Regions from separate parts of the Homo sapiens genome. Here region 1 is linked to region 2. Evidence: fine-mapped expression QTL. Tissue or cell type: whole blood. Region 2 holds a variant in brackets; the other region holds the start of a gene. All regions are shown on one strand. Distances are between the middles of the regions.

Evidence for each region. PIP is the estimated chance that this variant, and not a neighbour inherited with it, causes the effect.
Region 1: FMN1 starts here. The variant in region 2 is fine-mapped to the expression of FMN1 in whole blood (INTERVAL, PIP 0.99).

The regions. Positions count from the first base shown.
Region 1 is chr15:33,193,168-33,195,926 of GRCh38, forward strand. FMN1 (formin 1) reads right to left here and starts at 1,547. Exons shown (of 21, transcript NM_001277313.2): 1 at 1,411-1,547; 2 at 742-893. It overlaps LOC105370759 (a long non-coding RNA gene), which reads left to right and starts at 1,744. Exons shown (of 3, transcript XR_932090.3): 1 at 1,744-2,408. RefSeq lists silencers at 1,526-1,865, 1,640-1,849.
Region 2 is chr15:33,118,371-33,121,129 of GRCh38, forward strand. All of the region lies in intron 4 of FMN1 (formin 1), which reads right to left. Among named protein-coding and RNA genes, the nearest start is that of FMN1, 75 kb to the right of the region's middle. The variant T/G (reference allele first, on the strand shown) is at 1,442.

The DNA.
Region 1 (2,759 bases), 75 kb after region 2:
TGATCAAGAAGACCCGAGACCTCATTGATTCATTGTGGAAGCAACATCTTCCACAACGACAGTTAATCTGGTATGCAATTCTCAGCTATACTGTTTTCCCTCCCAAAAAAGGGTTAATAAGTCTGTGATCCAAGAGATTTGCAGTAAGCCCTAGAAACAGCTAAGCAACGGCTGTTGAATCCCATTGGTGTGCCTATAAGATGCTACCTGGTGTAGAGAACAGAATATAATTCTCTCTCCTAGGAATTTAGATGCGCCCCTCCGCCCCCCTGCCAATACACACGCAAGGGGGCATAGCAGATGATGGCACATGTCCCATATGCAAACATGAATAGTAAACATGCTTTAGTACAGCTGGAGCTACTGTAGCAGAAAGTCAGGTTGTCTGCTACTCCACCTGGTCTTCTTAAAGGATTGGGTCTGGACATTCACCTCTCAGTGACTGCCACTCCCCATATATATCACAGGTTCAGGCTCTGCATTCAGCCCATTCGGAGTGTGTGAGTGCTAACATGGAACTCTCCAGGAGACAGCAAGCAGAAATGTGGATGATTAAAATAAAGGGTTTTCTTTGGCAATCTCAATTGCAAATGAGGATAAGGAAAATCCTCCCAGCTCACACTCTGCTCCCAGCTACTTGTTCTTGAGTTAAATGAGGGCTTGGCTCTGGCCTCAGGGGGCAAGAGCACTGTTCGTTATTTGGTGGTGGGGGAGGGGGTTGGGGGATCCGTCAGCACTTACATGCCTTTAGAGAATCTGCCTTTACAGAACTTGAAGAGCTCTGATGGAGGAACAGAGATGCTGTGGTGGTAGTGGCCTTGGAGGTGGTGGTAGTGGCAATGGTGATGATGATGATGATGAAAGAAGAAGAAAACGGTGATGGTAAATGTCATCTATAAACACAAGCAAAAAGCAGCAACAGATACCTTTCTAGTCATTGCCAACCATAGTCATGAAGCTGCTTCTGTTCCCAATGCAATCCCATTGTGGTGCTCCCCCTCTGCGCTAAACACATCCAGCTTCAAAAAAAAAAAAAAAAAAAAAAAAAAGCTCTGCATCTCTCCGTCCCCCGCCCTCCCGCCCTCCCGCCCTCCACCTTTCCTGTGCCAAGCTGGGAATGAGACTGCACTGGCGGGTCAAGGGGGCTGGGACCTGAGAGTCAACGACAGGAGTTCTGTAGTGAGGAGCGTTGGGATGACCCGGAGGGCCCACCAACGTACTTGGGAGCAGCTTGGTGGGGGAGCTGGAGGAACCGACACAGAAGGGGAGGAAGATAAGCTGGCGGGGTAAATAGACTTGATGCCTCATTCCAAGAACCCTGAAAGCCACGGGGGAAGGCGGAGCAGGCAGCCTTTGGTCGGGAAGAAGAGACGGGCAGATGGCCAGCAGAACAGACAAGACTCTCTTTACCTGACCAATACTCGGGAGGCTGGTCCCGAGTCCCAGCTACTCGGGAGGCTGAGGCAGGAGGATTGCTTACGGCAACAGCCGTGGCGGCTGCAGCCTCGAAGGATGCTGCGCTCCAGTCCAGAGCCAAAGCCCAAAGGGGCAGCTGCGCCGACCTCCACCGAGGCTCCGCCCCACAGGCCACAGGCCCCGCCTTCCTAGCACGCGCCGGCCTGACGAGCTGTTTGGGGGAGGTGAGCAGTAAACTGATCGGCAGGGCTGAAGACCAGTGGAAACGTGCAGCGGCGCCCGAGGTGGCAGGGGAGGCGGGGCGGGAGGCGGCGGTGCCCAATCAGCAGCCGAGCCGTTGGGCCAGGCTGGGAAGCAGTGCTGTCTTTTGGCACCGTCTGATCCGGGCTGAGGGATTGAAGGCGGTGGTCGCTAAGCTAGGTCTAAGACGGACAGCCAGGGCGACAACCAGTCTCTCGCTACGTGTCCCCAGCTTCCCTGTTTCCGAGCGCCTCTCAAGGCGCACGCTCTGGACTTGTTCAGATGGGGGAAGGGAACTGGTCTGGAACTCCCCACTATTCCCGAGGTTCCCACGCCTCCAGATCCGGAGAGGCCGTTTCGCTCCAGTGGCCTGGCCCCCCTGCCCCCTCAGCCTAGCCGTTCTTGATCGTAAGTGCTAAAAGGAACAAAGAAGGAGAATTCAAGAATCCACACATAAGCCCAAACCCTGACAGGAGCCTTTTCCTCTCCCATCTCCTGCCTACGCTTCCTCCTAGTAGCTTTTTAACTGCTGGCGGTTAAGTTACTTTGACTGGTTTGAATTAAACGCAAAATAGGTTTAGGCTGAGAAATGGGCCAGACCCTTGGCGATCTGAGAAAGAAAGACTGAGTCCGGATGTCAAGAGGCCTGGGCCTCACGAGGGAGTTTGTCTGCTTATTTGAACACCTCAGAGTTGAAGATCTTGTTACTGCTATTTCTGTGCTGGTGAATCAGTACAGACCTTGATGCCAAGGTACTGTTTTGTCCCCAAGTGTCTAATCATTACTGAAATGAACTACCTTCAAACCTTTCCTAAGAGGATTTGAGGCCTTAATGTCGTTGAGATTTGGAATGTGATTTGAGTGACACTGAGATCTTTTCCAAGTAGGTAGGCAAGAAAAGGCATTGTCTTTAATCTGCTTTTGGATAAATGCGAACTGTATCACCCATTTGGTACTTGAAGATAGAATTTTGTCCTGAATAGATTCTGTTTTCAAATAAGTAAATGGGAAAAAAATTTGGAAGGTATTTTTAAGGTGATTTTTTTCACTATTTTTTTTCTAGAAATAATAGTTTATTGGAACTCTGATTTATTCTTAATCAC
Region 2 (2,759 bases):
AAGAAGTCCATCTAAATGATTAGAACAAACCAGAAAAATGGAGATCATGGCTTCAAATAAGCACCAGCAAACAGAGAAATAGGAAAGTAAAAAATGTCAATTTCTCCCTTAATGCTGAAATTAATTACCTTTACATAATTTATTTTTCCTAGGTAATTTTTCTAATTTCAGTATAAACTTGTTGATAAGAATCAAGTGAAACTTGTTTGACAGGAATGAGGGACAGTTCCTGTAGGAAACAAGAAATCAGAAAATCTCTTCCTCTCACATCCTAATAATGCTCATATTAAATATTAAATACAAAAAGCATGATTTAAACAATTTCCATATGAAATATTAGATACAAATATTTTCACCTATTTTGGTTAAATAATCTAGATTAAGTATTTCTTGATATTGATACAGCATTTTATTACATCAACCTATCTTTAAAGAATGGTATAAAATCTTTAAATTTCAAACAATTTCTAGTCACATTCATACTCCAAAGTCTTTATGAAGAAAATAATGTCTATAAAAAAAGATTGGCCGTAAACCTTCCTTTACAAAAAAAAAAAAAATTAGACACATAAATTCTTAGTTTTGTTCAACATAATTGAATGAAAATGCTAATATTCAGATGGTATAATTTAAAAAATTGGAGATCAGCACCCCTGCAGGTATCAACTGGAGGACATCTGAATCAACTTATGCGACAAAACAATGACTTTTCAGCTAGAATTCTTCATAGTTCAGCCCATAAAAACTAGAAAGCTAAAAACACTAAGTAGAGAGAAACTTCTATTCTGATGATCTAGTTAGATTCATCTCTATGTTCAATGAACACCCTTCTCTCTCCACCTGCAACCCAGAGAACAGGCTTCTGTTTTCAAGCTTACCTTCCTCTGGGGTTACCGACCTCCTGTGCCGGCACTTCCAAATCCTGGGAACTGAAATGGACTGTCCATATCTTGGGCTACAGTGGTAGCAGGCACCCATGGTGCCAAAGGGTGGGGAGCCTGTGGTAAACATGATAGATTCTCAGGACAGCCTGGGAGGAAGGAGAATGTGGGGGATGTGCCTCCCCTGCTCCATCGCAAGAGCAACTGCTACAGTGCCACCCAGGAGGAGACTCTGCCAAGCATTAATGAGTCCACCGTCCGTACGCTCAGTGGGCCAGACAGGTTTCGCCACTTTATAGCCCTATTAATGATAAAACTTTCTGTAAAAAACCAGCACTATTCTTGAAGAGCTTGCTTTTATTTTCTTTCTCTTTCAAGGGATAGAAGTGATCACTCTGTTTTACAAAAGATGTTTTCAGTTAAACACAAAACTTCCAAAAATTTTTTCATTTTTTTGAATCATCTCTCAAAACTAAGCTCTCATATTCTAAAAACTGTTTGTACTATATTCGTCTTTAAAATGTGTTAGGAATTTCATTTTCAGATTTTGAAAGCCAGTC[T/G]TCTTCTTTGCTCTCATAAAATGACCTCCCCATCACTAGGTTTAGCCTTGCATGTAAACTATGAAAAATCACTGTATAATTATCTTAATGAGACTTTGTGTTTATATTGTGTCTTCTATCTAAAGAGCTCAAAGCGTTTTGCAAACATGATCTTATTAAGCGTCACAACACCTCATTCAGGAATGCGATGGTAAGGATTATTATTATCAATTTTAACAGGTGGGGAAACTAAGAGATTAGCAATTAAATGACTCAATTTGAGGTTACAATGTTAGTTAAAGGCACAGTTTGATTCAGGACTCTGACATCTATTTCCAAGGACATACCCAAGTGACCAATGGAGAGCAGCATAGTGAAATGAAAATTGTTTTTCACTTCTCAGAAATAATCTGTTCTTTTGCTCTACGGCTTTGAAGAACATTAAACATAAGGCAATTACAAAATAATTTGTTTACAAAACTTGGCACACCCTGCTAAAGATAGCAGATGTGCTAACTCCAGTCACTTTATTCTCCTTGCTGACCCTTTCCAAGGGCCATCATCATCTTCCAGGTCAATGGATTAGGTTACCAGTTGTGCCCATAGTGTTTACAGAGTGGTTAGCTACTGCACTTTTCCTACACACCGGCAGGGAAGACATGTTCAAAGTTAGCCATCTAGTGCATGTTTATTGGTGGACATTCCAGCAACAAGGAATTGTATAATCCAAAAAATGAGAAAACCTCATGTCGCCAACCCCAGAGATTACTATTTTTTTATGTGGGGATATACGAACACACACGTAGTGATACCAAGATACTGTTCGGCAGCTTTTGTTGTCTTTTCGTGTTCTGGTATTCCTGGATCATTGGTGTGTCAGTTCATATATATCTACATCATTCTTTTAAGTGACTACATACCCATTTTACAGACATATATATAAGATATGGAAAAATTTATTCTACCTATTACCCTTTTACTGCACATTTGGTTTTTTTAATCCTATGAACATTCTTGCATGTTTATGTATTTTTAAAAGTATTTCTTTTGAATCTACTTTCCATTTTTTTACAAGCTCTCCAGGACTCTTTCTTCTGAAAATATACCTGTTGCACTATACACTGAACTACTTATAGTACAGTAAGCCCATCATCTTGGATGCAAAGTAAATTCACCTCTTTTCCTCCCATTGCTTCTTGATAGAGGTTTTAGTCTTAATTATAGGATAGTACTCTGCCTTCATTCATATAACCCAAAAATGTAAACTGGAGAACCTTCCACATGGGACAGATGAAAGGTTGGCTAGATGATGTTGTAACAAGAGTATACAATACCCCAT